3 linked regions of the Homo sapiens genome follow. The protein of the gene in region 3 purifies or fractionates together with the protein of the main gene of each other region. This does not show direct contact. Each region holds a gene or a part of one and is shown on either strand. Other genes may lie near its edges.

Region 1 (3,652 bases), on a different chromosome or scaffold from region 3:
TTTCTTCAAAATTTTTAATAGCATGTTAACAGTGGAGGCTCACATAAAGAGAAATAAAGGATTAGCTACCAGGCACCTGAGATTTCTTCATTTCCTATAGTGGCATGTAGACATATCTGAATTTCTTGATATTTATTCCAAAGAGAAAAGATCATCTAAAGAGCTCTCATCTCAGAAAATGTGACCTTTTTTAAATTGTGGTAAGAATACTTAACATGAGATCTACCCTCTTAACAAATTTTTAAATGTACAATATGGTGTTGTTAACTATAGACACTGTTGTACAGAAGATCTCTAAAACAGATTCATCTTGTAAAGCTGTAACTTTATACCTATTGAATAGCAATTCATTTCTCCTTCCCCCCATCTCCTAGCAACCACCATTCTACTCTCTGTTTCTGAGTTTAACTATTTTAGATATGTCATGTTAATGGAATCATCCATTATTTATTCTTCTGTGCCTGGCTTATTTCACTTAGCATGTCTTCCAGATTGATCATATTGTCACATGACAAAATATCCTTCTTCTCAAAGGCTGAATGGTATTTCATTGTATGATATTCATTCAATGATATTTCATTTCATTTTCTTTATCAATACATCAGTCAATGGACATTTAGGTTGTTTCTGTATCTTGGCGGTTGTGAGTACTGCTGCAGTGAACATGGGAGTGCAGATAATCTTTTTGAGATCCCAGTTTCAGTTATTTTGGATATATGCCCAGAAGTGGGATTGTTAGATCATATGGTAGTTCTATTTTTAATTTTTTGAGGAGCCTCCATACTGTTTTTCATCACTGCTATACTATTTTACATTCTTAACCAATGACTAATTTTCATAATCAGTGAATTCTTATAAACAGAATATTATATGTCAGAAAGGAAAAATTTACATAGCAAATACCTTTACATTTAGATTTTTCTGTTTAAATGTTCTGCCTACTTAATGTTCACCCATACTTTTGACATTGACTGTAGTGTAAATATTATTACTCTTAATGTAGTTTTCCACTGTACATTTTGTTTTGAAATGTCATAGAGAAATAAATGGGCTTTCCTGTTATGACTGAGTAACTTTCTTTGAGCTTATGGGGAGTTGTCCAATGTTAACATTTTATAAATATAATTTTACATAATTCATCTTATTCCAGGAATATTTAAATATTCAAGTTTATTCAAAACTTGCATTTTATAAAACAAGATAAACTTACAGTAGGTTAACATTTCTCTATAAAGAGCACTTTTCCAAAGTGCAGTTTGGTAAAAAGTTAGATGGGGACATGACATTACAAATCTTCCCCCAGCTTCCCTGGCCCTTATTATTCTCCTTTCTCACTTTATTTTTCCCTAAAGTATTTATCACCATCTCCATTTCATGATACATTTTTTCCTTTCTTTTCTTTTCTTGACTTTTTTCTCTTCTTCCTTCTTCACTTCTTTTCTCTTTCCCTTACTTTCTCTTTTTCTTTTCTTTCCCCTTTTTCCTTCTTTTCTTTTGTAGTTTGTGTCTCCTTGCTCCCCTGTCATATAGGCTCTGTGAGGTCAGGGATTTTAATTTATTTTGTTCGCTGCTGTATTTCCAGTGCTTGAAACAATACTAGCACAGAGTAGATTCCTGGTAAATATTTGTTGAATAAATTAATGTTGTTCCGGCTTAGTCTAGTAATAACTTTTTAGAATATCTATAAGTATATGAACTGAGTTTCTTCAGCTAATTTACATATTGCTTTTTCAGTCTGTTTCACCAGCTGTTGAACAGCAATAAGTGTGGGATGATAACCCCTGATAAGAATCTATAGTAGACTTTTATGTTTTGAATTTAGAGTGGAGCCATATGCCTTAAGACTTAGGCTAGAGATATTTTCTTTTATCCAATGGAAAAATTAAAGAGCATAAAAGGGAGATACTGTAATCATCCCTTCAAGGTAAGCCAGAATCTTCTCAGGAAATAATACTGCATAACCAGTTGAATTGAGGCTGCAAAACAACTCTCATTATCCTGGAAATTCTTAGAGCAAACACAGCCAGAAGTAGCTAATTTCAGTCATTGAAAATGTCACAAATGTACCCATAGAGCATCTAACTTTAAATAGCATACCTATCTGTGTAGTTTCCAGGAAAAATTCATTGCAAAAGATATTACTAGATGAAAGTGAGTAACTTACCGTATTTTGACAGTTGGGAATGATATAATTGAATTTTAAGAAACTTACCGGTTCTTGTGACTCAGTTGAGAGTAGTACATTTTATTATCATAAAGAGACATTTGTAGTGGAAACATTAGTGTCAGTGCAGTTTGACTATTCATGCTAGTATTTATTTAATTTCTTTTGGGAAAAACTACAATGAAATGATTGAAAGTCATGACTGTGGAGTTAAGTGACCTGCGTTCATGTTCCAGTTCTGCCACTTACTGGCTGGTTACCTTGGCTAGGTACCTTTAGCCTTGGTCTCCTCAGCTTAATATTGGGATAGTATTAGTGGCCTACTTTATAAGGATGTTTTGAGGATTGGATGAAACAATGCACAGTGCCTGACTCATAGTAATTACTCCAAAAGTTAGCTGTCAGTGTTATTAATATTAACATTTACTTGTTTACCTTGTTTAGAATTGTATTCCCATTGGAGAGCAGCTTCAGTCGGTGTTGGGCAATTCTGGATACAAGCATATGATTGGACTACAATCCTCATCTACCTTAGGAACCTTAAACAAGTCGTCCTCCACACCTTTTCCTTTTAGAACTGGATTGACATCTGGGAACGTGACTGAAAACTTACAAACTTACATTGATAAAAGTACACAACTGCCTGGTGGAGAGAATTCTACCAAGCTTGATGAGTGTAAAGTTATGCCTCAAAACCATTCCTTTCTTGAAAATGATCTTAAAAATGCAATGGCCTCTTTCTTACCAAAGAAAGTAAGTGACAACTCAAATATACCCAACTCCGAGTTGCTGCCTTTTCTCCAGAATTTATGTAGTCAAGTTAATCATCTCCATGTGGGAAATAAGACCGAGTGTCAGGAAAACATCACCAAGCATGGTGAACGCATTCTTGGTGTTGGGTAAGTATTATTTTAAGACATACGAGTTTCGATTTGGTAGGTGGAAGAATCAGATGAAAGGAAACAGATTTGTCTCAATGAGTACTGCCTAAAATTTGTTTCCAGAGAAAATTTTAGCAACTTTTACATTTTACCATTAATACACTTAAAGGGGATAACTGCAGAGTAGAATGGATTACTTTGAAAGAAGTCCCTATAACTGGAGGTTTTGCACACTTCCCAGGCATTTTGTGGAAGGGTCACAAGTATTAGTTCACAGTTGGAATAGAAAGTGATTTGCATGAATGGAAAGGAGCTGTGGGAATTATAATCTTTATGTTGTTTTTATATATTTGTACTATTTTGTGCCTGGGTATGTTAAGCATGTCATTGTGACATTTTCCTTGAAGATTATGTTTGGTCTAGGCAAATTCCTGATTATTAAAAAACTATATTAGGATAATAATCACTTGTAGTTTACAAGCTATTATCCCCAGTCTCTTAATCCCTTATTTTGGCAGTACATATTTGATTAAGAGATAGCTAAGTATTATGTTCCTAATTGCTTAAGTAGATATAGTATGTCAAAATGGTGTTCTAGACTAGAATT
Region 2 (3,103 bases), on a different chromosome or scaffold from region 3:
AGGGGACATGGGAGAGACCTGGGGGTGCTGCACCGTTGGGCTATGACTTCTGGTACCAGCCTCGACACAATGTCATGATCAGCACTGAGTGGGCAGCTCCCAATGTCTTACGAGATGGCTTCAACCCCGCTGATGTGGAGGCTGGTGAGAATCCCCCCATGTGCCAGCAGGAGCCTTGGGCCTACATCCCCTTGCTTTCTGCTCCAAATCTCCCACCCCCACACTTCCCTCCTGTGGCCCCAGAATCTAAGAGAGATGGCATAGGATGTACCGCATGCTCAGATTGCTCAAGCGTCTTCCTGATCCCTCCAATCCATTTCTTAACCTTCTGCCCTGATTGGTGGCCCAGTCTTTGCCCATGCCTTCCAACCTCTGATGCTGAGCCTATCCTCCGGCCCCACTCCCACCCCAGGACTGTACGGGAGCCACTTATATGTATGGGACTGGCAGCGCCATGAGATTGTGCAGACCCTGTCTCTAAAAGATGGGCTTATTCCCTTGGAGATCCGCTTCCTGCACAACCCAGACGCTGCCCAAGGCTTTGTGGGCTGCGCACTCAGCTCCACCATCCAGCGCTTCTACAAGAACGAGGTGACATACGCCCTCTGGCCCTCCCCTCCCAGTAGTCTTGTCAGCAGCTCTACCTAAGCAGGCTTCTGTAACGGTGCTCCCAGGCGTCTCCAGGAACGAAAAAAATGAGGCTGCATGCCCTGTCTCTCTTCTCTCAGTGCTAGGGCAACTTCTGCCTGAACCCTAACTGGCCGTATTTATCCATTCATTCAAAAACTACTTAGTGAATGTCTGTGCTAGGCACTGTGCTATGTTCTGGGAATGCAGTGGTGAAGCAGACACAACCCCTGCCTCAAGGGGCTTGCATGGAGTTAGATCCTGCTGGCAAGAAGGCCGGGCATCTATTCTCTCCCTCCCAGGTCTGGGCAACCCAGATCTAACCCCTAGTCCCCAATTCTGATAGGCTGACCTCTCTGCCAGCTAACCTCACCCTCCACCCCTCAATGTAGGGAGGTACATGGTCAGTGGAGAAGGTGATCCAGGTGCCCCCCAAGAAAGTGAAGGGCTGGCTGCTGCCCGAAATGCCAGGTGAGTGCCTAGGGCATAGGAAAGTTGATTCTTGGCCTGGGAAACAAGAGTCCTTAAAGGCTCTACTCGCCCCCTGCCCACAGGCCTGATCACCGACATCCTGCTCTCCCTGGACGACCGCTTCCTCTACTTCAGCAACTGGCTGCATGGGGACCTGAGGCAGTATGACATCTCTGACCCACAGAGACCCCGCCTCACAGGACAGGTGGAGACCCTGGCAGGAGGAGCAGAAGGGAAGGAAGGAAAGAGAAGAGAAGCTGGGGATGGGGTGGATGATCTGAAGCAGCTGCAGGATGTTGAGGGAGGTGCAGGAAAAGCAGACATGTGTGCTGTGGGACAGCACAGGCCCAGGACTGTCCAGGCCAGGGATGGGCATGCAGAGCATGTCTGAAAGGAGAGAGGGGTTCCAGCCAGGCAAGCTGCTCTTCCTGCAATGTTTGCGCCTCCCACTATGGTCCTCCTTATACTCTGCACCTCCCCATCTAGCTCTTCCTCGGAGGCAGCATTGTTAAGGGAGGCCCTGTGCAAGTGCTGGAGGACGAGGAACTAAAGTCCCAGCCAGAGCCCCTAGTGGTCAAGGTAAGAGCCTCTCCCCCTACTTGCTGGACCCCTCAGACCCATGCTTGAGGAATATGTGGGGGAGCAGCTGAGCATACTCTTGGGGTTGGGGTGGTGCCTAGGATCTGTGTGTTACCCTGGGCTCTGACCCCTGGTTTTCCCAAGGGAAAACGGGTGGCTGGAGGCCCTCAGATGATCCAGCTCAGCCTGGATGGGAAGCGCCTCTACATCACCACGTCGCTGTACAGTGCCTGGGACAAGCAGTTTTACCCTGATCTCATCAGGTGAGAAGCAGACACATGGGCTCTCCTCCCCAGCCCTCCTCTTCCAGAGGGGTCATTTGGCTTTCTGAAGACTCCTCAAGGAGACCCCTGTACCCCACCACACAGATGGCCCATTGAGACCCTGGTCATTCCTCCTTCCTCAGGAGCTTTCCCCTAAAATCTTAGGGGAAGGGGGCAGCCACCTCTGACCTCTCCCTTACCCCATTCCCTTTTCCACCAGGGAAGGCTCTGTGATGCTGCAGGTTGATGTAGACACAGTAAAAGGAGGGCTGAAGTTGAACCCCAACTTCCTGGTGGACTTCGGGAAGGAGCCCCTTGGCCCAGCCCTTGCCCATGAGCTCCGCTACCCTGGGGGCGATTGTAGCTCTGACATCTGGATTTGAACTCCACCCTCATCACCCACACTCCCTATTTTGGGCCCTCACTTCCTTGGGGACCTGGCTTCATTCTGCTCTCTCTTGGCACCCGACCCTTGGCAGCATGTACCACACAGCCAAGCTGAGACTGTGGCAATGTGTTGAGTCATATACATTTACTGACCACTGTTGCTTGTTGCTCACTGTGCTGCTTTTCCATGAGCTCTTGGAGGCACCAAGAAATAAACTCGTAACCCTGTCCTTCAGATGGCCTTGTCTTTGGGGGCCCAGGGCCTGTGTCTCTTCTTCTGCCTACCCTTTGTATCATGCACAAGAAAGGGCTAAAGAGGCCTCCAGTGGGGGTTATGGTAACTAGTTCACACCAGTGATTCCAACATGATGCTAATAATGCCCAAATCTCAATTTTATGGCCAGACAAAATCTGAAAATTTTGGGGGTGATCGTCACAAGGAGACCTGGGGGTAGAGAATGTAAATCGGTGTTTCTAAAGTTTTGGTTTTTTTTTAACCCATGCTTTCTTTTAATGAACCTAAAAATCTCACCCATCACTCTCAAGAGAATGTAACATGCTCCCTCACACACAGGAGACCCCAGGATCCCTGTTGTGTATAGTGTAATATATTTCCACTGATGGCAAGACGACTGGGAGAACGCAGCTGTTGGGAGGTTTATCAGGCTGCTCTTGCATTGCTATAAATGCCTGAGACTGGGTAATTTATAAAGAAAAGAGGTTTAATTGGCTCATGGTTCTGCAGGCTCTACAGGAAGCATGACACTGGCATCTGC
Region 3 (3,478 bases):
GTAGGAGAAATCCACCTGCTGGGGGCTGAGTGTGGCCTGAGGGACAGGCCCTGGGTCCCGGGATGCCCCTGCCCGAGCCCAGCGAGCAGGAGGGTGAGAGTGTGAAGGCCAGCCAGGAGCCATCCCCCAAGCCAGGCACAGAAGTCATCCCGGCAGCCCCCAGGAAGCCCAGAAAGTTCTCCAAACTGGTCCTGCTCACAGCCTCCAAAGACAGCACCAAGGTGGCGGGGGCCAAGCGCAAGGGTGTGCACTGTGTCATGTCCCTGGGGGTGCCCGGCCCCGCCACCCTTGCCAAGGCCCTCCTCCAGACCCACCCCGAGGCCCAGCGGGCCATTGAGGCAGCCCCTCAGGAGCCTGAGCAGAAACGGAGCAGGCAGGACCCAGGTGAGGCTCCACAGCGGCCCCCCAGGACAGCTCGGCACCTCCCAGGGTGGCCCCCACAGCCGCGCTGGCTCCATCAGGCGCTTCTCCCTGGCATGCGGGTCCTTGTTCCCTGACTTTGACCACGTGTGGAGAGCAGTGGCACAGGGGTTAGGGCACAGGCCTGGGCATCCGCCGACCTCCAACCCTGCCTCTGAGCGGCCTTGCCTCTCTGTGTCTGTTCCCCACTCTGGAATGCGCTGCCTACTGGCTCCTTCACAAGGGAGGGTCTGAGGGTGCGGCGGGGCCCACAGGCAGCTGCCGTCAGCTTCAAGGTCTTGGCTCGCAGCTGTTCGATGAGGGTCTCTAAGACCGGGGGCTTGATGGGTCACCTTTCCATATGTTCTAGAAAGCTTCTTTGGTCTCACTCACCGTTCAGTCACTTAGTAACATCCACTGAACAGCAGCTGTGTGCAGGCTGGGCTCTGGAGACTCGAGTCACGCAGGATGAGACTCCCAGCAGACTAAGGCAGTGACCTCAGCCTGGCTCTCCGGGACTGCCCCTGCTCTCCCTACCTCCTCTGCACAATCACCCCCCACCAAGCCTCCGGGGAGATACAGCTCAGGGCTCACAGGTCCCATGGGAGAGTGGGGCTGGGGGTGTGGCCCTAGCTGCTGCGGGCTGGCTGGAGGTGATGGGGCAGGTTCATTCCCTGTGCTTTGCTGTGGGAGTGATGGGATGGATGGAGGCACTGAGCATCTTCAGTCCCTGCTCCCACTCCCCAGGGCCCTTGGCTCTGCCCCTGCTGTGTACTAGACCTTTCAGCTAGACTTGGGGAACATAGTCAGGTGGGCCATGGTAGCAGAGATGGGATGAGAGCAGGGCTGCCCCTTTCCCTGCACCCAGCTCTCCCTGAGGTGGCCCAGGCCATGCCCTGCTGTCCCCTGCAGGAGGACAGGTCCCCTCCTGGCCCCACAGCAGGTCCTGCCTCTGGGCTCTACCAGGGCAGGCAGCGGTGGGGGCAGGGCCCTAGGCAGCAGAGGAAATGGGCTGGGTACACCTTTTGAACTGGAAGTTCCAGGGAGATGGGGCAGGGGGCTGCCCAGTGGGTGGGAAGAAGGTGAGTTGGGGTTTCTTCCCAACTGGGAGTGGGCTCTGCCGTGCCCTGAGAAGAAGAGGCGTAGCAGGTGGCCTTGGCTTGTGACCTCTGAACAGGTGGTCCCCTGGGGTCAGCCAGAACAGGTGGTCCCCTGGGGTCAGCCAGGGCACTCAGCCTGGCAGCCCATTGTGAGAAAAGGTTCCTTCAGTTTGCTGGCCGTGCAGGGACCCTGCCTCACTGATGGAAATTGAGGGGTGAGTGGCCTGAGGTCACAGAGGGTCACAGCCCCACAGCCTCCCTGGGGCTGAGACCCCAGAATGCCTGAGATGGTGGTGTCCGCAGCCACAGGCTTGGAGCTTTCAAGGAACCTAATGGACCCCTCGGCCTCCATCCCTCTGCTGGAGTCTCAGGCCTGGTGTGAGCAGTGCTCTGGGACTCAGAGGGACCCCGTCCTCCCAGAGCCGGTGGGAGTGCCTGGCTCTTACTGCGAAGCCCCCACCATCCAGTCCTGCTCTGAGAGCCTCTGCCTGTCCCCCTGGCTTCTCCTGCCAACCTTGGGCAGAGGATGCAGTCCCCATGGCCTGTGGGAGGCAGGGCTCAGAGGAGCGAAGTCGCCACTCTGAGGCCACCAGGAGGTCCCTGCAGAGGGCAGAGGGGGTTGGAGTCTGGCTCAGGATCTGTTACACCTGAGCTCTGTGGAATGAGACCATCTCAAGGTCCTCCCAGCCCCTTTGAGACTCCTGCTCACTGCTGGGATCCATCTAGGCCTGGGGCCGTGGTGCCTTTGTGAGAATTGGAGCACAGCCATCTTCGCCAGATGAAAGGCAGAGCAGGGCTCCATCAGGCGCCAGGGGTCCCGCAGGCAATCACCCTCAGGCATCGACCACCCCCATCTGCCAACTCCTCCATCCTTCCATCCCCACCCCAGGTCCAGCAGAGGCGATGGCTGCGGCTTCCCAGTGCTCAGCACAAACTTGGCCTCAAGTTTCCTGGAAATGACTTTAGCAGCTTTTGTGGCCCTGGCCTGGTGGCCTTGGGAGCAGCGTCCCTGAGTGGCAGTCACTTCTCAGTCAGGCAGAGGCTTCTGGCCCTGGAGCATCCACTGGTTGGGGTGAGAGTGAGGCCTGGTAGACCCCCAACAGCCAAGCTGAGCCCTCCCATCTCCATTGACACCAGCCTGATCCACCCTCTTCTCTCGCAGGCACAGACAGAACAGAAGACAGTGGATTAGCAGCGGGGCCTCCTGAGGCTGCTGGGGAGAACTTTGCCCCCTGCTCTGTGGCGCCCGGCAAGTCCCTGTAACCTTGACAACAGGCGCATCCTCCCAGGCCACCAACCCAGCCATAGGCTCTTCTCTGTCCGCAGGGCTTCTGGGGCCAAATGGGTGAATCTTTGCTTTTAACATTGTGTGATTTCTTTTCTTTTTTTTTTTTTTTTTAGATCAAGTATAAGTTACTTTTGTAAGCAGAAAAATACTTTCAAACAAGAATAAAAGAAGCTGTTCGCTAGACCCCATAATGGGCAGGTTTTAAACATCCCAGGCTTCTGGGTCCTTTGAGGCTCAGCTCTGATGCCACCACCCCTGGGTCTCCGCACCCCAGCCCTTACTGGGCCCTTCCAAAGTGCCCCTTAGTCACTGCCCTCCCTGACCCAAGTCTCGCTTCCTCCATGAAGCCTCCCAGACTGACAGCTCCCAGGCACTAAGGGAGCTCAGGCTTGCTGAGAATGGTAGCTCCAGGATTCTGCTGAGGGAGAGGTAGGCCTGCAGCTCATGGGTGGGTTCAGGGAGGAACCTGACAAAAGCACATGCGGCCTGCCTGTCATGTTTTTTCCAGGGGATTTGTGGGCTGAGGAAACCTGAGTTCCTGCCCTGGCCCCCTGGGTGCCATCCCTGCTGGAGGGGAGATGAAGGAAGCACAGCTACCCTACTTGAGCTCCCAAGTCAGCGAGCCTCCAGGAGGCTTCCCATGAGTCCTCATTCTTTGACAACTGCCTCTGGGCTCAAGGCAATGTTAGGG

What was found.
Region 1: the proteins of FLYWCH2 (region 3) and C10orf88 purify together in Homo sapiens (co-immunoprecipitation; one large-scale study listed by IntAct). This does not show direct contact.
Region 2: the proteins of FLYWCH2 (region 3) and SELENBP1 purify together in Homo sapiens (affinity purification with mass spectrometry; 2 studies listed by BioGRID and IntAct, with this or other methods). This does not show direct contact.

What each region holds. Positions count from the first base shown.
Region 1 is NC_000010.11:122,937,116-122,940,767, reverse strand, and holds part of C10orf88 (ATPase PAAT), read left to right. Parts: intron 1-2,608; coding exon 2,609-3,063; intron 3,064-3,652. UniProt on the Homo sapiens protein: ATPase that regulates mitochondrial ABC transporters ABCB7, ABCB8/MITOSUR and ABCB10. Regulates mitochondrial ferric concentration and heme biosynthesis and plays a role in the maintenance of mitochondrial homeostasis and cell survival.
Region 2 is NC_000001.11:151,363,763-151,366,865, reverse strand, and holds the end of SELENBP1 (methanethiol oxidase), read left to right. Parts: coding exon 1-144; intron 145-412; coding exon 413-591; intron 592-1,019; coding exon 1,020-1,098; intron 1,099-1,181; coding exon 1,182-1,303; intron 1,304-1,584; coding exon 1,585-1,677; intron 1,678-1,821; coding exon 1,822-1,940; intron 1,941-2,160; coding exon 2,161-2,323; 3' UTR 2,324-2,562; downstream 2,563-3,103. UniProt on the Homo sapiens protein: Catalyzes the oxidation of methanethiol, an organosulfur compound known to be produced in substantial amounts by gut bacteria. Selenium-binding protein which may be involved in the sensing of reactive xenobiotics in the cytoplasm.
Region 3 is NC_000016.10:2,896,388-2,899,865, forward strand, and holds the end of FLYWCH2 (FLYWCH family member 2), read left to right. Parts: 5' UTR 1-62; coding exon 63-384; intron 385-2,388; coding exon of another isoform or gene 2,389-2,459; exon of another isoform or gene 2,460-2,567; intron 2,568-2,661; coding exon 2,662-2,762; 3' UTR 2,763-2,978; downstream 2,979-3,478.